2 separate regions of the Homo sapiens genome follow, and region 2 is linked to region 1. Evidence: fine-mapped expression QTL. A gene starts in region 1. The other region holds a variant in brackets. All regions are shown on one strand. Distances are from middle to middle. Region 1 holds the start of ACO1 (aconitase 1). Region 2 overlaps ACO1 (aconitase 1).

Region 1 (10,902 bases):
AATGAAGCCTGAGAATATTTATCACCAGTAGAAAATGTTTTCTTCTTAATACTTATTCTGTCTTTTCTTGAGACAAGGTCTCACTCTCTGTCACCCAATTATTGATTCTCCTAATGCTAACCATCCTCTCAGCTTTTTACGGCTAGCAATGTGTTTGCCACATACTCATCAACAGAGGGCAGTAGCTCACCATCATTGGTTTAGTTAGCCTGCATGGTACTTTCAAGGATGGACTTGTAACAGACAAATGTATCTTTCTGTGTCGTCTGTTGTCGTTTCCTCCCACCAAGTATGGGAGAAGGGAGGAGAGGAACTACTAAGAAGCAGTCAACAAAAATGGTAAAAGTATGCTTGAATCTAAACAAATATTGACCCTATAAACAGAAATAATAATGCCTTCAAGAGTTACAATGTGTGACTATAAAATACAAGATAACAATGGCATAGAAATCAAAAGGAGGGTACATGAAGTTAGAAGGTTGTAAGAACCTGGAATTATCTGGGGAAAAAAAGATAAAAAATAACAATTAACATTAGATTTTGATATGTGAAAGATGAATGCTGTACTATCGTGGGCAAACATTAAAATAATATCAGTAAAGCTGTGGGAAAATAATAAAACAATAAGTTCTCAGGTCCCTCAGAGTAAGAATTAATCATAGTCATTTTTGGACTCATCACACCAAGCTCTTAGCAGAGCCAGTTTGTGGACTGATTAAGTTTCTGCTCTCTAACTTCTAGGACAGTCAGTAAATGTGAAATTAAGGAACAAAAGGTAGCTTTCTTAATCCATTTATGTCTTCTTAATACTTATTCTCCGTCTCTCTTTGAGACAAGTTCTCACTCTGTCGCCCAATTGTTTTTTCTCTTAATGCTAACCATCCTCTCAGCTTTTTCTGTTTGACAATGTGTTTACCACACACTCATCAACAGAGGGCAGTAGCTCACCATCATCTGGTTAAGTTAATCTGCATGGTACTTTGAAGGATGAACTTGGAACAGACGAAATGTTTGCTGTTTCCTCCCACCAAGGATGGGGCAAGGGAGGAGGGAAAGAGGATTTTCCATTTTAAAAAGCACTTAGAGCCAGGCACAGTGGTTCACACCTGTAATCCCAGCACTTTGGGAGGTCGAGGCAGGAGGATTGCTTGAGCTCAGAAGTTTGAGACCAGCCTGGGCAACATGAGGAGATCCCACCTCTATAAAAAATTTTAAAATTAGCTGAGTGTGGTGGCACACACCTTTGGTCCCAGCTACTCAGGAGGCTGAGGTAGGAGGATTGCTTGAGCCCAGGAGGTCGAGGCTGCATTGAGCCGTGATCCTGCCACTGCACTCCAGCCTGGGCAACAGAGAAAAATCCTGTCTCAAGAAGAAAATTTAAAAAGCACTTAAACTGACATGTGGAAGTAATCTCATCATAAACTGGAATTAGAAATGAGTCAAATTAGTGACAAATTTTTATTTTTACTCTCATTTGTCAACATTACCAAATTATTTTCTTGAAAAAAATGTTTTATTTTGTGTATACCTAAATAATTTAAAGGACCAATCCTGCAGAGTACTTCCCTCTCCCTTCTGAAAAATATATAACACAAAGTACTCAAAAAGTATCCAGCAAATTAACACATGTGAAAGATGGTACTAGACACCTAGGAATTATGTACCAATCCTGGAATTCATACTCAAGCTGCCCCTGATTTCCAACACCTCCATCCCCCAGAATGAGGACTCTCTTTACCCAGGTGTCCCTACATTACATGGCTGCAGCAGGGATCTCTGTGCTATCATCAGGGAGAACAAGCCCTGGAAATACGTGAATAAGGAATTCCAGCCTATATGGTGATAGAACAAATCTTTTCTCTAGAACATTTAAGTCCCTCTTCTGCAAAGAACAAATAATTTACAGCTTCAGGGTATCTGATGATTTTGTTGCATAATGCTTAAAAGCACAAGCTATGGAGTGAGGCCAGCCTTCTCTAAAACCCCAGGATCACCCTTTAAGTTTCATGACTGAAGCATTCTGTGTAACTACTCTGAATCTCAGTTTCCTCATCTGTGAAACTATGGCAATAACAATGTTACCAGCATCAACAGGCGGTTGTGAAGATTTTTATTATTAGCTATATTGAGAGGAATGGTGCTTAACTGTAAGCAGCTGCCCAGAGGATTCTTGTTCCCTGGGAAGGCAGTTCAGGGATCAGGCCCTTAGGCAGTAATTAAGAGAGCATGCAAATTAAGCGTATAGCAGGTGTGGTGAGAAGAGGGCATCAGGGGAGAGCAGTTGGCTATTTACCGGGAACCAAGATGAGGCTAAGACCTGCCTCTCCTTGTTATGAATATAACTTTGATTTTAAGAGGAACAAAACATTTATTTCAAATTTTCTCTAGTATGAAGACATATATTCAGTGAAAAATTTAGGGATTCTAAAGTCCCCTCAAAGCATTCAGGAGGACCATTTTATACTTCATTCATTGCCAAACAGATGTCTTCCCTCCGTGCCACTCTAGAGGACTCTGAACAGCGCAAAGGCCAACAGAGAGCAAAGGGTAAGCAATAGAAAGACACTGACAGTAAGTCAGTCAACAAACTTGTATTGAGCACCTACTATGCACCAGACTCCATGTTAGGGATGATGAACAAACTGACATGGGCCCCTGCCCTCATGGAGTGTATATTTCTAGGTAACAGGTCTTTGGTGCCAATCTGGGGACATGCTACAGCAGAATCACCTGTGGTAAAAATGTAGCGTATTCAGAATCTGAACACAGACCCCCACCCTGACCTAATGAATCAGACATTCTAGGAGGCAGAGGATACAGGAGGCTATATTTTTATCAGTGCCCTATGGTAAATCTGAGAAACACCCAGATTCGGAGAACTACCATTGGTGTTTCTCAAAGCATGGTCTTTTGACCACCCACATCAAACTCAGCCTCCTAAGAGCACAACACAGGCACGCATGTTTTCAATGTACCCCAAGGTTTGAGAAGCGTTATGCTTGACTTTTTCTCTTACACCTCTCCCTTCCTATTAAATGACATGTATGTGAAAATGCAGTATAAATTGTAAAGCATGATACAAAGTTAGTTGGGTATAGTTCCTAGGACCTTTCAATAAACTGAGGAAGTCCAGCATATACAAGTAACTGAAATCGGTGTGGAATATGATGAGGCATTCCTCAGAGCTCAACAGGTCTCTGGCAGAATCTTCATGGTTCTTCTTATAGCAGCAGAGCCTTCTAGCAGGTAAGGCTGCTAAAACAATACTGTTACTTCAAATGAAGGTCCTTCTGCCTCTGCCCCCCACCAGAGCACAGCTGGGGTGCCTGAGCAGTTACATGCTTGGGTGGCATCCTCTCTGAAGGTCCCTAGAGTATATGCCCTCAGCTGGGCCATTAGCAGAACCTTTTATATCGTGACAGAAATATTTGTTAGGTGGACCCTGTGAGAGCGTAGTAATATGCCATGGCAATATACCCCTTAAACATTTAGCTTTCTCAGCAGATCATGAAATACAAATTCGGGATGCAGGATTAGGATGAAAAAGAAACTAAATGGATAGGAGGGGAGAGACAGATGGTTAGAGAAGACACTAAATTCCCATTTTAGATGTGATGAATGACAGGCACTGATATGGTTTGTAATCCCCACCTGTGGAGGGAAGGAGGTGATTGGATCATGGGGATGATTTTTATTATTAGCTATACTGAGAGAAACTGTAAGCAGCTGCCCAGAGGATTCTTGTTCCCTGGGAAGGCAGCTCAGGGATCAGGCCCTTAGGCAGTAATTAAGAGAGCACGAAAATTAAACGTATAGCAGGTGTGGTGGGAAGAGGGCATCAGGGGAGAGCCGTTGGATATTTACCGGGAGCCAAGATGAGGCTAAGACCTGCCTCTCCTTGTTATGAATTTAACTCTTTTTTTCTTAAAGAGGAACAAAACGTTTATTTCAAATTTTCTCTGGTATGAAGACATATATTCAGTGAAAAATTTAGGGATTCTAAGGTCCCCTCAAAGCATTCAGGAGGACCACTGTGCATTCAGAGGACACTCTCTTGCCTGCTGCCAGGTAAGACATACCTGCTTCCCCTTCTGCCATAATTGTAAGCTTCCTGAAGCCTCCCCAGCATGCAGAACTGTGAGCCAATTAAACCTCCTTCCCTATGAATTACCCAGTCTCAGGGTTCTTTACAGCAGCGTGAGAACGGTCTAATACAGACACCTTTGGAATATCCAGGTGGGGTTGCCACATATGGCTGCAAATCAAGAGTGTGAAGGTCAGAAAGTTAACTAAGACCAATGACAGAGACATAGCAGGCTTCAGCTAGAAGTGGCAGGCAGTCTGCATACTGAGAAAATAGATGAAGAAAAACTCAGCAAATGGAGAAACATATAAAGCAAGAGGAGAGAGTGTAGGGAAAGACCTTAAAAAAGAGGGACAAAAGAGGGAAGAGGTGACTCCTAAGAGCGGAGGGCTGAAAAGCCAAAAGGAGGTTAACATTTCTAGGAAAACGAATCGCCAGTGTCAAATACCACAGAGTAGTGAGTAAGGACAGGAACAGAGGACAGGCCCTGGGATTCACGATCTGCACGTCACTGGTGACAACGTCCAAGAGCAACAGACTGGGGGGATGTGGAACTATTTCCTTCACGGTTTTGACCAGCGTGCTTACTAATAAATCTCAATTCCCTTCATAGCTCTGATTTGATTGTTTTCTGCGAAGGATTCTCAGTTACACGGATGTTATCATTGAACATTAGATACTTTGCTTTCCGAATGGCTGCCTCATTAAGAATCGCAATTTAGCTGGATGTGTCCTCATCGGACTTCCCCAGCCTTCTACTCACTCTCACCTTGCCCCTACTCTCCCTACCTCCCAAGGGGACTGGAGCATGATTTTTCAGGGATTGTGGTGCACCTCTGCCATATGGTGGACATTCAAAGAAAATTTAATTACTAATGTGAATGGAAAGGATTTAGGAAGTGGGTGGGAAAACAGTCTCCTCTCATATTGGAAATACAGTTACTTCCCCTTTCAAAATAAATATAAGTATTTATATTTCAAAGTTAAATATAACTAGACGATAGTTGTACCCTATAGTGCAGTATGACAGGGAAGGTGTAGGCTTTGGTGTCAAACCAACCTAAGGACTGAGTCTCAGCTGTTGCGCATTGCACACCTGCAAAGACGGGTAATATTCTTTACTTGTAAGGTGGTTGGAAGAGCTGAACTGAATAACGTGGAAAGAGTCGATCACAGGGCTTTGTGCAGAATAGGAGGGCAGTATAAAGTAGCAGGGGGGCTATTAGTACTGGCTATTGTTTACTCATCCTATAAGCTGCTTATTCAGAAAACTACAGTAACTTTCCAAATAATTTGGGCAGGAAAACCTCACCACCTTTCATCTAGAAAGATCTAATCACTTCTTTGAACGCCATTCACCCAAGAGGGCACAACTCCTACCAACATGAAAAGCAGATCTTGTGAAAGCCCACTTGCTGCCATCTCCCAGCCATTTCTCCGACTTCAGACCGGTGAACATCGTGCATTAGAAAGTGTTGTTACATGTCCAAGGAAATCTACATATAGAACTTTTGCCACGGAAATGCTGAAGTCCTATTCTGACAGCGTGACTCCGATGTCCACTTGGCAGGCTTTGCGCAAAGAATTAAGGCGAGGGTGGAGAGGGTGGGTAGGGTGGGGACGGACAAAGTGAGAAGGGAGGCGGGCCAAGTGACCACACGTACATGAAGCCTCTCCAGTTATGGCCAAATCATTTTTTAAAAATAATTCCATTTCTTCCCCACCCTTTGGTCACTTCCTAACGCCGGCTGGGGAGTCACATGCTAAGCTCCAAAGTGAGCAACAGACACCCTCGTCCCAGGTCCCATGCTGGCAGAAGCGGACCCGGGCCGAGGGATCAGCCCTCCCACTTCCAGCGGAGGAGCCCTTCGCAACCCTAGCCTCCAGCCCGGGGCGAAGTCCTCCAGGCCCGCGGGGGCGCCCGCAGGCTCCGCCCCTTCTTCGGCTAGCTGCCCGTCCGTCCCGCCCCTGCTCCGCCCTTCCCGCCCCTGCTCCGCCCATCGCGCGGCGGCCCCGGGGGCGAGAGGGGGCGGAGCGTGGAGGCGGCAGCTGGAACCGCGCAGCGCACGGGAACGCGTCCCGCTGCTTGGGTCAGGTTCGCCGGTCGCGGGAGCCCCGCCGTGCAGTCGGAGGTGAGTACCGACGCGGCCCGACCCACGTCCCCAGGCGGGAGCGCCGTCCACCCTGTATCCCTCGAGAGTCGGTGCGGGCCTTTACCGAGGTGCCCGAGGCAGTGGCGGCACGGGGGACACGGAGGCGAGCTTGGGGAGGCTGAGAGGAGAATCGGGGACGTGTTTCTGGCGACTGACGTCTCCACCCTGTCCCCAGTCTATGTCATGCCGGGGAGAGAAACCAGGGATTGGAAGTGGCTTTCCTAGACCCTTCTTAGCCTTGGCTGTGCGTGCTGTCCTGAAAGTCCTTGCCTAGGGTGTGCGGCCAGTCCTGGGAGTCCTAACCCCGAGGGTGTGAGGCCCGCACTGGGAGTCCTCGCCCAGGCCCGGCTGGCTGGATAGGGAAACCCTTGCTAAAGTTGTGCGGGCAGATCCGGGAATCCACTCCAAGGGGTAAAGGGAAAATGGGATGAGGGGGAAGAGACCCTTCGTGGGAGGCTTGAACACAGAGCCCACCATGATAGATTCAGAGATCTAGAAAGGAGCTTGGGCTGCAGTTATGACCAAGTCATTTTTTTCTAGATTCAGCTAGCACATCATAATGGCATCTTCCTTCTTGCAACACATGTAACTCTCTTCCCTGGGGGACAACCTCTAGGACAGAAGTCCCCAAACTTTTCTGGTACTCAGTACTCCTTTACACTCTTAAAAATTAGTATCTTAAGGAGCTTTTATGTGTGTTATATCTATCCATATTTATAATATGTAAGTAAGACTGAGAAATTTGTACTATAATAATTCATTTAAAAAGAATAGTGAACTAATTATATCTTAACATTGCCTATTTTTATGAAAAAGAACTATATTTCCCAAAACAGAAAATGATTGAGAAGAGTGGCATTGTTTTACATTTTTGCAAATCTCTTTGATGTCAAGCGTAATTGAAGACAGCTGGATTCTGATAGCTGCTTCTGCAGTCTGTTGCAATATCACATATCATGTAGCCTCTTGAGACCTCCACTGTATACTCCTGAAAATGTGTGAATGAAAAAAAGCAAGTAACATTTTATTACTAGGAAAATGGTTTTGACTTTGGAGATCCCTAGGAGTTCTCTGCACCACACTTTGAGGATGCTGGTGTAGGAAATGCTTCAGAGGCTTCATTCATTGGGCCTGCTTCTTGTTTGTGATCCTTCCTCTGATTGGGAACACACACCACCTCATGCCATGGACAGTATTAACCTCTGGTATCTGGAACCAAGTTTGATCTCACTTTGGAAACCATGTACTAGGTCCCCACGTGAGGCTGTGATGAACCTTGCCAGCCTCCTGAAAAGTCAGCAAGGCTTCGCACATGCCTTTGGTTGTCTCTGTGCTTGCAGAGCTGACCTGTCTGTGCATCAGGATTACAACAGTGATGTGGCAAACAGGACCTGTAGGCTCACAAAAGTGCCAGTGGGGAGACCATGCCAAGTGTGTAGGGGTTCCTGTGAGAGTTACCAAGTAGTCAGGAAGTTATTTCCAAAAGAACAAGGAGGCATGCTTTTGCCTTCCCTTGCACGTGTTCATTTCTGTTTGCAGTTGCATGGTTATTAGCCTTGAGTTTATTGGAATAATGATTTCCAGTCTTGACGTTCTTTCACTTTCCACTTTCAGAGGGTGTCACTCTGAGTGGTGCTTCCTCAGCCCCTGTCAAAAAGCAGTTTCCACCATCCTGGAGTGTGGTAGGTGAGGTCCTTCACGGGACTCTTTCCTTAGCTTCGTGCCTTGTCAGAACAAGTTCAAGACAGATGTTATGTGTATATATTTGGGAGGAAGAAATTTTCTAACTCCATCCTCCCTTTTGTTCCTTCATCCATAGAGCCTCTTGTGCTCTGATGGATCAGTTTAAATGCTACAGCCGATACTTGAGAAATGTTGCATGCACATGAGCGTGTTGTGTGTGTTGCACAGTCCACAGGTGAGGAGGAGGAGAAGTCCACAGGAGAAGGAAATGGGATCTAAACTCTGAGCACCTGCTGTGTTCTTTGTATTAAAAAATTCCACTTTGATGGTGGGGTCTCATTCCTTCATTCTTTCAGTAGATTTTTATTGGCCACCTATTTCTCATGTGTCCAGTTATGTGCGGGATGCCAGGAAAGTAGTGAGCACAAAAGATGCAGTCCCTGTCTTTCTGGCAATTATGGTCTGATAGCTTTGATAACTGCTGGTTAATTGAGATAGTCTATTATATAGTCAGAGTGTGTACATGAAAGCTGGTCCTGTGTGAAGAGCAGTACCCCCTACCTAAAGTGTGCTTCAAAGGCATGTGCTGAAGAAACCAGTCCCACACTGTGAAGATGATGATAAAAACCAACGTGTATCACCACGTGCCTGGCAAAGAACTTCCTTTGCCTTCTTTCCCCCACTCTTCCTTCTACATAGGAAGTAATTTCCTGTGAGGCAGCCAGATTCACAGGGAAATTACCTCCAACCTGGTGCCAGTCACTGGGCCAGCCTCGGGTTAAGACACTTTCTCTGGGTCTCAGTGTCTTTGACTTTAAAATGAGGAGTTAGGCCATTGATAGTAAGTGTCCCAAGGAGCCAGTGGTTTCAGAGCTGGTTTATACTAGCATTTGTGCATATCTCTTCCTAACTCCGTGTTCAGTGGCAACACATTTTTTAGATTGAAATAAGCCATGGTGGGAATAATAACACCATGGAAATTGGCAAATGCTACATCAGAGCTTTTTTTTCCTCTTGGAGTTCAAGTTGTTAAACCTTTGCCAGCTGACACTGCTATTGTCTGAGCCAAGGTGCTTTTGGTTTGTTTTTTTAGTAGAAAACAGACTCTTTAGCCTAGACAAAGATCCTAGATATAGGGTGTATGATTCAAGTCCTCTAAAATTTTTGATAAGGAAAAAAATCTGTTTTCATCATATTCTAAAATATAGATCAGCAAACTTTTTGTGTAAAGGGACAGGTAGTGAAATATTTTAGGCTTTTTGGGTTATGGTTATACAGTTTCTATTGCAGCTACTCAGCTCTGGTGTTGAAGCACGAAAGCGGCAATAGACAACATGCAAACAAACAAGCATGGCTGTGTTCCAGTCAAACTTGATTTACAAAAACAAGGGCCAGCCATAGTTTGCAGACTCCTGACCTAGACTATCAGAACAAGAACCATGTTTCAAAGAGAGAGTTTTATGGAAAAGGAGATTCTTCAGGACTTTATGCGTGAATACCAGAAACTTGAGTCTCCAAGATGGACGTAGCGGGCAGTAGTAACTGTAGAGGATTTGGAATCAATCATGGAAGACTCCATAGTAGGTTGTTTAAAGGAAGGCCAAGTGTGTTGAAGTTTTGAGGACAGAGCCACATATGGGTCTTATTCCCAACTCCCTCCCTGGAGCCATCTCAGATGTTATGCTAGAATGGATGTACCTGCAGTCTAACCCGTTGTGTGAATTTTGCATATTATTATGCAAAAACTAGTAGTGTCTCTAAGAGCTGTCTTGATTCCAGGGGCAGAGACAAAGGAAATGTTAAAAAGGATGGAAAGGCCCAGGCACCGTGGCTTACGCCTGTAATCCCAGCACTTTGAGAGTCCAGATCGCTTGAGCCCAGGAGTTCAAGACCAACCTGGGCAACATGACAAAACCCCATCTCTACCAAAAATACAGAAAAAAATTAAAGCCAGGTGTGATGGCACATATCTGTAGTCCCAGCTACTTGGGAGGCAGAGGCAGGAAGATCACCTGGGAAGTCCAGGCTGCAGTGAGCCATGATTGCATCACGGCACTCCAGCCTGGGCAATAGAGTAAGACCCTGTCTCAAAAAAAAAAAATCCTCGTTATATATGTATATGATACATTGTAGAGTACACTGTGTGTGTATACCTGTGTGTATGCATATTTGTACATCTATGTGTACATAAGTTGTGTGCATGTGTCATTACATATTCCATTCCATGTATTTAAAGTAGCATCATGAATGTTTAGAAGATAGACCAGTAGCCAGTTCTGGGCAGTGGAATGAGGTAGAAGGAAGCCAGAGAACTTTTGTTACTTTTCATAATAACAGATGTGTGCCTATCTTATAAGGGAGGATAGCCTGTAGCATTCATATATTGCTTTTACAACATAGTAAACCTAAAATCCCAACAACGTATACTTTCGGAAGGAAAATAGAGTTATTTCTCTGATAGGAATGTTGCCACCATCCTCCTCCCCCAATTAAAAAAAACTGCTTTGTCATATCACAGCTCTGAACTTGTATATATAATATTAGTATAAAAATAAGAGAGAGACTCTCAAGTCAAAACATTTTATTTAACAGTATTAATGTTTGACTCTTGTCCAGGGTTAGTAATACTAGTTCAAAGTGTTCCTTAGCAAGCTATTGTGCAGCCTTTACACTGGTGTTACAAAATAGTGTTGTATAGTTTTTAAACTAAAAAAAGCATGTTACACAGCAGTATTTCCCTGTGATTCTGTATTTCTGAGGAGAGAAAGCATGTGCATATATGTACGAGTGTGCCCCTGCATGTACAAAGGCAGCGGATATGCCAAAACATTGAGTGCTTTTCTCTAGGTGATACAGCACACTTGCTTTTTAGATTTTCTTCATTTTAGCTTATCGGGGTTTTCAAGCATGAATAAATATTACATTTGACATTACCAAAATCAACCCCTACAGTATGTTTACACCTGGTATGTTGAGGACAGT
Region 2 (10,902 bases), 70 kb after region 1:
CTTGAGCGCATCCTCCATGGGCTGCACCCACTGTCCAACCAGTCCCAATGAGATGAACCGGGTACCTCAGTTGGAAATGCAGAAATCACTCGCCTTCTGTGTCAGTCTCACTGGGAGCTGCAGACTGGAGCTGTTCCTATTCGGCCATCATGCCAGCTCTCTCACAAAGTCTTTTGTAAACCTGTGTATCCAAAGAAAAGATTGGAAGTATGTCTAAACTACTGTCTTTATTCATCAGGGAATCAAAGCCGTCCTGGCCGAGAGCTACGAGCGCATTCACCGCAGTAACCTGGTTGGGATGGGTGTGATCCCACTTGAATATCTCCCTGGTGAGAATGCAGATGCCCTGGGGCTCACAGGGCAAGAACGATACACTATCATTATTCCAGAAAACCTCAAACCACAAATGAAAGTCCAGGTCAAGGTAAGCTGGAGCCTCTCTATGCCAGGCCCTGTCGAAAGGGGCCCCCTCGTTTGTAACCAGTCTTGTTAGAAGGAAATTAGTGAGGTTTAGAAGGCAAAAAATATCACTCAGGAGGACTGCATTAGACTTAGGAGGCCTACTAGCATCTTTTCTACCTGCCTTCATAGCATAGGATGATGCCTATGGATTTAATTTCTCTGTTTATTCACAGAGTTATCCTCAGTTCCATTCTTACCTCCCACCCCCTACTGTACCCTGTTCCCGGTCTCTCGTGATGAGAGCTCAGGGATGTGACATTTCACATTACCTAAAACATTTCACTATAAAAACGTGAGCAACAGATATACTCACCCCTCCCTAAGCCTGCCCATAGGCACCAGGCTTTGATTAGCCCAAGAGTGAAAATGATAGATCCCTAGGCAAGGTAAAGATAAAGTGCCCAGCACCAGGTCCCAGGGGTCATTCGGTGCCCCAGACAGAGGCAGTGCAAAAGTCTGTGTCTCAGATAAGCAGATGGGCCAGCTGCCTAAGGGACAACCTTAATGAAATCTCTGCTGATTGAATACTTCTGTCCACAGGGAGCCCCCAGAGGTTTAGAAAATACCACCCTGATGTCATTAATAGCTACTGCCCTGAGAAGCTATTTCTAGTTCTTAGATGGCTCTCACCCCCATCATTTACAGTCTGCAGTGATTCTCAAACTGTAATGGGCAAAGCAGCCTCCCAGAGATCTTGCTGAAATGCATCTTCTGATTTAGTGGGTCTGGGCTGGGGCCAGCAGCCTTGCATGTCCTCATGTGCTGCTGGTGTTACTGAAGTGTGGACCACACCTGAGGGGCAGGCTGGGCAGAATTTCCTCCGAGCAGAGCTGTCTCGCCACCTCCCTCAATGATGCTTCTGTTTCTTTGTGCCACAGCTGGATACTGGCAAGACCTTCCAGGCTGTCATGAGGTTTGACACTGATGTGGAGCTCACTTATTTCCTCAACGGGGGCATCCTCAACTACATGATCCGCAAGATGGCCAAGTAGGAGACGTGCACTTGGTGCTGCGCCCAGGGAGGAAGCCGCACCACCAGCCAGCGCAGGCCCTGGTGGAGAGGCCTCCCTGGCTGCCTCTGGGAGGGGTGCTGCCTTGTAGATGGAGCAAGTGAGCACTGAGGGTCTGGTGCCAATCCTGTAGGCACAAAACCAGAAGTTTCTACATTCTCTATTTTTGTTAATCATCTTCTCTTTTTCCAGAATTTGGAAGCTAGAATGGTGGGAATGTCAGTAGTGCCAGAAAGAGAGAACCAAGCTTGTCTTTAAAGTTACTGATCACAGGACGTTGCTTTTTCACTGTTTCCTATTAATCTTCAGCTGAACACAAGCAAACCTTCTCAGGAGGTGTCTCCTACCCTCTTATTGTTCCTCTTACGCTCTGCTCAATGAAACCTTCCTCTTGAGGGTCATTTTCCTTTCTGTATTAATTATACCAGTGTTAAGTGACATAGATAAGAACTTTGCACACTTCAAATCAGAGCAGTGATTCTCTCTTCTCTCCCCTTTTCCTTCAGAGTGAATCATCCAGACTCCTCATGGATAGGTCGGGTGTTAAAGTTGTTTTGATTATGTACCTTTTGATAGATCCACATAAAAAGAAATGTGAAGTTTTCTTTTACTATCTTTTCATTTATCAAGCAGAGACCTTTGTTGGGAGGCGGTTTGGGAGAACACATTTCTAATTTGAATGAAATGAAATCTATTTTCAGTGAAAACTTGTTGACTTTGAGTTTTGCTGTGTTTGTGGCTAGAGTTTTGGGATATTTAGTACAGAGTGAATCTCACACCATATCATTGGGAAGCCTGAATAACCTTCATATTCTCCCATTTTTACAACTCTATCAGAACTGTACGGGTATAACGGAAATGTTTAGGAACCATTATGCTCGCTCTTCCCTGTTTGGGAGCAGACAAGAAGGAAGAGTAGCCTGGTGGCAGTGGCAACGATATAAGTACATAAGGAAAAGCAGATAAACTTCAGGACACTAAAAACCAATTATCTGCTCATTTTTACCCCTGTAGTCATTTCTGGGCATGCCTTAGTTTGCTTGGGTTGCTATAATGTAATGCCATAGACTGGCTGAAAGAACAGAAATGTATTTTCTCACAGTTATGGAGGCTGGAATTCTGAGATCAAAGTTGAAGCCACTTCATTTTCTGGTGAGGACACTCTTCCTGGTTTACAGATGGCCACCTTCTTGCTTGTTCTCACATGGCATTTCTTTGGTATGTGCCTGGTGGGGGAGAGAGAAAATAGGCTCTCATGTCTCTTCTTACAGCAACACTAATTGTATTGGATCAGGGTCCCACTCTTATGGAGACCCAGGAAAGCTGGTGGTATAACAACTTGGTTCAAGTCCAAATGCCTAAGAACCTGGGGAGGGGCATGGGGAATGCTGGTATAAGTCCCAGAGTCTGAATGCCCAGGAACAAGCAGGAGCTGTGATGTCCAAGGACAGGAGGGCAGGATCTTTGTAATGAATTTTTAATGTCAACCTTAGCACTCAGGGGATATGGCCTGGTCATCAGAACATCTGGAATCTAATCCTCTTTCTACTTCTCACCAGATGAGGGATCAAGACAGGTTATTTAGCATCCCTGCACTTGCGGTCCTGGGGATCTTATTTATATTCATTTAAAAAATAAATTACAAACAAACAGCCAGGCGCAGTGGCTCATGCCTATAATTCCATCACTTTGGGAGGCCGAGGTGGGTAGATCACCTGAGGTCAGGAGTTCTAGACCAGCCTGGCCAACATGGTGAAACCCCGTCTCTACTAAAAATACAAAAAATTAGCCAGGTGTGGTATTGTGTGCCTGTAATCCCAGCTACACAGGAGGCTGAGGCAGGAGAATTGCTTAAACCCGGGATGCAGAGGCTGCAGTGAGCCGAGATCGTGCCATTGCACGCCCGCCTGGGCTACAAGAGCAAAGCTCCGTCTCAAAAAAAAAAAAAAATTACAAACAAACAGAACTCCATTGTACAAAAAAACCTGTGATCCTCAAGTTAAGATCAGTCCTAGAATAAAAACACTAAGAATGGCTGAGAAAACAGACCTCCACCCTCTCAGCTCTCCATTACTGAGCAGCTGGGGAGCTGTCTCGCTCCCCGCATTCAGTGGCTCCTGTGGTCTGTATTTTTGTATCCTCCCCAAAATTCAGGTGGTGAAACCTTAACCCCCCAGGTAATGGTAATAGAAGCTGGGGCCTTTGGAAGGTGATTAGATCATGAGGGTAGTGCCTTTTAAAAGAGACTCAAGATAAGATAGAGACCCCCTCATTTCTTCTGCCATGGGAGAACACAGCAAGAAGTCACCATCCGTGAACCAGAAAGTGGGTTCTCACCAGATACTGAATCTGCCAGTGCCTTGAACCTAGACTTTCCAGCCAGAACTGTGAGAAATTTCTATTGTTTATAAGCCACCCAGTTGATATTTAGTTACAGCAGCCCAACCAAGACTGTGGTTATGAGGAAACAAACACATTATTGTGGCTAGACTAATGGAATTGGGTCCCTTACCTCCAAGTACACCCTCTGTCCTTTTCGGTAAAAATATCTTCGCCAGGCACGGTGTCTCATGCCTATGATCCCAACACTTTGGGAGGCCGAGGCTGGAGGGTTGCTTGAGCCCAGAAGTTTGAGACCAGCCTGGGCAACACTCTACAAAAAAAAAAATAAATAAATAAATAAATAAAATAAATCAGCCAGGTGTGCACCTGTGGTCCCAGCTGTTCAGGAGGCTGAGGTGGGAGGATCACTTGAGCCTGGGAGGTCGTGGCTATGATTGCTCCACTGCACTCCAGCCTGGGCAATAGAGTGAGACCCTATCAATCAATCACCACCCCCCCCCCCCCCAAAAAAAAAAGTATCTTGGCCAGTGTCTCAACCTTGCCCACTAACAAGCCTAAATAAACCAACTTCTTTTACCTGGTTCTTTAAGGGCTGCTCGTCTTACTATCCAAATTAAAAATCTGCTGTTCTCCCTCCCATATTCTTTGCGAATGAAGATTCCCCTGTTTGTTTGGATAGTTTTCCAAATTCATTACTGCATTCCTGGCATCCGCAGCAAGCTAAGAGTTAGTTAATATTTTTAATATAGCAAATAAGGATGAGGGATGCCCTTCATGTGTATTTACACACCAGATTTTTATGGTACATAGGGAGTAATCTAGGGAAAAGATATATTAGGCATGAATCTTAGCTGTGGTAGAAGCACAGCTCAAATTAGCTTAAGGAAAAAAAAAAAAAAGCTGGCTCATAGAACTTGAGGACAGTGGTGGCCATGACTATGGGCTTGATTGGATCTAGTGACTCAAGCTCCCTTCCATTTGCCCCTCCAACCACCCCCCCATCCCTCCACCAATCATACCTTCTGTTGGCCTCTGCAGTAGAGTGGCCTCTTCTGGGCCCTTCCACATGCCAGGGGATATGGCCACCAGCAGTTCTGGGGAAACCATTAGTAATTTGTGATCGTAGAGATTTGTCTCCCAGTATTCCCTAGGGCAAAAATATTGGGAGTTCCTAGTCACCTAAATGAAGAACCTTATTTTTAGCAGTTTCCCTTTCAGGGCTCTAACAGGACTGTGGAGTAATGTACGGGGTTATGTAGGAGCAATGCAGAGCCACTTTTGAAAAACAGTAGCCAAGGTTCTACTGGCTGCCTTCTTAGGACATTATTAAATATCATAAACACAAGTGGAATTTAACACCCAGCCAGTTTGTGTTCAACCAGACAGCGTCATTATGAACAAAGATTATATAACGATAGCTGATATTAAGTAAGTTTTAAAAGTTGACATCCCAAGAGTGAAGCCTACTTATTCAGTACAGATTTGTTGAATGAAATTCGTAGTTTTATTTTACGGCATAATGAAACAGAGTTCCAGACATGTACCTGCCAAATTTGGTTCTGGTTGTCTTATCGTATGCAGGCTGGATACCTGCTACTGTGCTTCTACAGGATGTTAACAGTGTCCCCTGAGTAAAACAGTTCCACGGTCAGTACATTTGGGAACCACTGAGTTAAATGGGTTTTATCACTGCAGAACAGACACAAGAACAATGTGTGCTGTAAATCACTGTTTGCAGGGAAGGTGGCAGCAAATGGCACAGAAACCCACCTGACCACAGACTGCTTTCTTCTGGGCGTTCACGCACTGTGCTCCACAGGATACTCTTGAGAAACATTGAGCTATGGTTGGTCTGTTGTTTGAAATTCAAATAATAA[T/A]GAATCCATTTTAAGGACAGGAATTGGTTTACTGACCTTGATGTTGGGATGACTCTTCATTTCAGGGTGAAAATATCACAGCATCAGCACAGGCCAGGACCACAGAGATAACAAGGTGGTAGTTGTGTAACAGGTTGTGTCTGAACCACAGGAGCTTCAAAACATACACGGCTGGACACCCTGCCAGGATGCTCTAATGGGGCTGGGCATGTGTCCATGAAAAAGACTCCCCAGTTGTTTCTAAAATGTGGCCTTTGTTCTAGAAATGCAATGACCAGCATTTGGGAGTCAGTCAAAAGATCCACTTCCTAAAAGCCTACCTGCTCATTTCTTTCATTCAATACATATTAACCAAGTGCCTACTTTGTTTGAGTCCATGCCTGGCAATGACATTATTCCATTAAAAGTCAAACAAGGAAATGCTAAGTTCTCCTTATTTATTTTCACTTCAGTCTGCCTGCCTCAGTTGGCTGAATAGGGCTATTCACCTTCATCCAAATTGAATCATTTACATACTTAAAAGAACTTTTCTTGGCCAGGCATGGTGACTCACGCCTGTAATCCCAACACTGTGGGAGGCCGAGGCAAGTGGATCACTTGAGGTCAGGAGTTCAAGACCAGCCTGGCCAACATGGTGAAACCCCGACTCTACTAAAAATAAAAAAATTTAGCCGGGTGTGGTGGTGGGTGCCTGTACCCAGCTATGTGGGAGGCTGAGGCAGGAGAATCACTTGAACCTAGAAGGCAGAGGTTGCAGTGAGCCGAGATCACACCACTACACTCCAACCTGGGCAACAGAGTGAGACTCCATCTCAGAAAAAAAAATAATAATAATAACTTTTATCTTATTAAATCTATTTCTAGTAGATGTTTTACACATCCTATTGGAGTTCTTAAACAATAGTGTATTAGTCTGTTTTCACACTGCTATAAAGAACTGCCTGAGACTGGGTCATTTATAAAGAAAAGAGGCTTAATAGATTCACAGTTCCACATGGCTGAGGAGGCCTCAGGAAACTTACAATCATGGCAGAAGGGGAAGCAGGCAAGTCTTACATGGCAGCAGATGAGAGAGAGAGTGTGTGTAAAGGAGGAATTGTCAAACACTTATAAAACCATCAGATCTCATGAGAACTAACTCACTATCCCAAGAACAGCATGGGGACAACTGCCCCCGTGATCCAATCACCTCCCGTCAGGTCCCTCCCTTGACACATGGGGATTATAATTCAAGATGAGATTTGGGTGGGGACATATAGCCAAACCATATCAAATAGCAATTAAAAAAAATCACATAAGAAAAGACACTCTTAATAAAATACAAATAGAAAATGAAAAAAAACCAACTCATAAACTTGGTTTAAATAATCCATTTGTATTGGGTCTTAGTAAGAATACTACTACTAGTAACTATTATCAAGCAACTACTGTGTCATGTACTTTTCACACATTCTTTTAATTAAAAACTCTCCACTAACCCTTACAGTTCAGTATTATCCTTGTTTTACAGATGAAGAAAAGCCAAAGAGAAGTTATATAACTGGCAAGTTTCTCTGGCTCCCCGCCTGCACCACTGCTCACCAGATTGCATGAAGAGGGAGGCAGCTGTAACACCTCATCCCGTTGATCTCCAGGGAACTCAGATACTTGTTTCCACGTCCAGGAAACCGCAAACTAAGCTCTTTGAAGCATCAGCAAACCTTGCTAAGTGACACGTGAATGCCATTTGGATACATATTCTAATCTTTCAAGTAGAAAGGACAGTCAGACTGCCTCATCTGTAACATCCAAGGGATCTGAGAACAGACATTCAGTCCAGGTGTTGAACATCAACATCATTATAGGAAAATGGTCAAAGAGAACAATGGCACACGTTAAGAGAACATATTAATAGGGCAAGATGTATAGTAAACTAAGTTTTCAAGAAGTATTTTATCATTTTTATGCTCTCTACTAAAAGCTGACCACTGTAGAGTGGATACACATTGCTACATACAGCAACTCTACAGTGGACAGCTTTTAGTAGTAAGCATAAAAATGGCTTTATGTTCTCATGTTCTCTGTGTAGCCATACCACACGTTGCTACACCAGGAACATGAGTACATATAACCATTACATATACATACCTGTATGTATGTATATTAGTTACATATACATATGTACAGTATATACATGTATATATATTGAACCCTTGGAAGGGATCAGCAAAGAGGAGGACTCAATAAAAAAAGACTAGAATAGAACTAGAAGAGAGAGAAGCCCAGGGAGAGCTTCAAGAAGAGTGCTCAACAGGGCCAAATGCGCAGAGGTCAAATAGAAGGTTAAGAAGTGCCCAGTGGATTTGGCAACCAGAGTCACTGGTAACCTTCAAAAGAACAATTTCAGTAGATTGTTAAGGGCAAAAGCCAGTTTACAGTAGGTTAAGGAGACAAAGGGAGATAAAAATTCCCAACATTCCATTCATTCATCTATCCCAGTGTGTACAGAGTGATTACTGTGTGTTTGTTGGCAGTTGACTCTAAAAAGAAGGCTAGAAATGAGGCTTTTTAATTTTTCCCAAGTACTATGAGCTCTGTTGGCCTACAAAATACTCAGTGCTGTGATTCACTCATTTGTGCTTTGCATATATAATATAGTACAAACTGCTAAAGATATTTTTAAAAAATATATTTTCACAGGGGTACAAGCGATCCATGATTATACCCACTATGTTTGTTTCTTCTCCACTCAAAGTTACTCATTCCCTGTAGCTGAAGATTGAGGACCTGATATCATTTGGACATTTCTGCTGGATCAAATGGTATCTTCTCAAAATGAAAGTCCTTCCACTTCGAGTACAGTGTCTGAACTCCAGTTGCAATATCCTCCACCACAAAACTTTCAATTTTTATAACTGGAATCTCAAATGTCTTGTACTTCACATGGATTCCCCAGTCATGGCTGCAGTTCTGTCGGGCACAGAATATCTTTGCTCTTTTTTCAAAACTTGAAAACTGCTTTGGCTTGGGATGTGGTCTACTCACAAAGCATTCCTTAAAAGCATCTCCAAGCACAGTGTAATGGCATTCCTACAGATGAAGGGATGGAATAACACACAAAAGAGAACGTTAGAACCAGTACATAATTGTGATTTAAAAAAAAAAAAAAGAAAACCCCACAATAATCTGAGGCAAAGAACAGGTGGGTCTCACTTATTTTACAATTGGAGGAAAAAAAAAAATAGATTCACCCAAAGTCCAGAGGATCCATGCACCTGACTCCCCTCTACAGGCAGGGTGGGGTTGCAAGTGAGGACACTGGGCACCTCATAAAGAAGAAGATTAAGAAGGTTCCAGGTAACCCAGCTTCTGAAGGTAGATACTCATTATTCAAAAACAGAAGCGATGTTTGCTGAAAATTTGTGAAGCTGAAGTTCACCAGTGGCCCTGGCAGGCACAATCCAAAGGATACAGGGAAAACGACCAAGGTCAAGATGCAATTGAAGAAGGTCAGGGACTAATGTGTCCACAGGCCCCACCTAGAGTCAACTTTAGAGTAAACAGCTCAGAAACAAATGCAGATCCAACATACTAGTCCCTCAGGAAAACATAGGGTCTAAAAGGGCCATTTTTAGTAGAACAATCACCCAAATTGGAGCTGAAAGGACCTTTTACAGCTAAAGAAGCAGACTTAGAAAGGTAAGGGAACTTAGCAATATGACTCCTAATAGGCTTTTTGCCCAAACAGCTGAGCTGATGAGAGATTTCTGCTTTCTGAAGACGAACGGAACATCCTGAAGTAATAACTCCTCATCTGAGCCAGCCCAGCCCCTCCACTGTGCCCCCCATGCAAGAGTTATACCCCATATTTCTCTTTGGAGATTTTTCTAACCCTTTCTCTGAAAGTTTTAAGAAAGAAATATAAGGCTGCAATAGAAGGCTAATCTGCAGATGTCACATTTTACAAATAAGGAGATATTTTGTTTTCATTATAAAAGTGATCCATAGCCCAAAAGGAATGTTTGGAAAACATAAGGTAGTAGGAAAAGAGAAAAAAAGTCATGGAATCTCACCACCAAAATATTAATACATTTTGGTATAGTTCCCCTAGCCTTTGTTTTTCTGTAGCAAGGTAGGTTTTTTGACTTTTTCTCTTGACAATGACAATGAATGTATTTGCTGCTGTTGTTTCACACAGCTACAAAGTAGCATCTTTACAATTCTGTGTTCTGGTTACTTTTTTCCTTATTACCATTAGTTTGTAAGCAGTTTTTCATTATACTACATAAACTTCATAATTTTTTAAAATAAACTTTACTTTGGAACAATTTTAGATTTAAAGAAAAATTGCAAAGATATCCCAGAAAATTTCTGCATACCCTTTACCCAGTTTCCCCAAATGTTAACATCTCATATACCACAGCACATTTGTCAAAACCAAGATAATTAACATCAGTACATTACTATTATCTAAACTACAGATTTTACCACTCTTTCTCTAGTTGTATCCTTTATCTGTTCCAGGAGCTAATCCAGGACACGTCATTGCATTTAGCATGACTTTTTTTTTTTTTTTTTTGAGACAGAGTCTTGCTCTGTCACCCAGGCTGGAGCGCAGTGGCGCGATATCAGCTCACCGCAACCTCTGCCTCCCGGTTCAAGCGATTCTCCTGCCTCAGCCTCCCGAGTAACTAAGATTACAGCCACCTGCCACTACGCCCAGCTAACTTTTTTATTTTTAGTAGAGACGGGGTTTCACCATGTTGGCCGGGCTGGTCTCGAACTCCTGACCTCGTGATCGCCCACCTTGGCCTCCCAAAGTGTTTTGATTACAGGCATGAGCCACTATGCCTGGCCAAAAACTATTTCTTTATTATTGAACATTTAGTATTTTTTTTTCACTTCTTAGCTTTTTTTAAATACACAGATCATGGCCACAGTAACAATGGAAATAATAGTAGTTTTATTATAAATATTTCACCAACAGTAAGCTGTAGCTAGTGCTAAAACATGACCAGGCACTTTGTAAAAAGGCAGCTTACCTCTATCACTCTTACGTCAGCTGTGTAACATGCCAAGGCTTTGCACTTTCTGCAGAGCAGTTTTTTATTTTCCTTATCAGGTACAGGTTTTGGTTTTTCTTGACTATCTCTGATGAATTTTTCATGAGTCTGTATATGCAGAATCTAATGCAAAAAGAAAGACCGCAAATGTAATTTGAGTACAACATA

What was found. PIP is the estimated chance that this variant, and not a neighbour inherited with it, causes the effect.
Region 2: its variant is fine-mapped to the expression of ACO1 in hippocampus (GTEx, PIP above 0.99). The same link has a PIP of 0.9 or more in blood mononuclear cells, caudate, hypothalamus, nucleus accumbens, prefrontal cortex and putamen.

The regions. Positions count from the first base shown.
Region 1 is chr9:32,378,520-32,389,421 of GRCh38, forward strand. It overlaps ACO1 (aconitase 1), which reads left to right and starts at 6,124. Exons shown (of 21, transcript NM_002197.3): 1 at 6,124-6,216. RefSeq lists a silencer at 5,925-6,304.
Region 2 is chr9:32,448,658-32,459,559 of GRCh38, forward strand. It overlaps ACO1 (aconitase 1), which reads left to right. Exons shown (of 21, transcript NM_002197.3): 20 at 239-424; 21 at 1,341-6,112. The coding sequence ends at 1,454. It overlaps RIGI (RNA sensor RIG-I), which reads right to left. Exons shown (of 18, transcript NM_014314.4): 17 at 10,714-10,857; 18 at 6,645-8,761. The coding sequence ends at 8,465. LOC101060445 (a long non-coding RNA gene) reads left to right here and starts at 10,385. Exons shown (of 1, transcript NR_197444.1): 1 at 10,385-10,902. The variant T/A (reference allele first, on the strand shown) is at 5,693.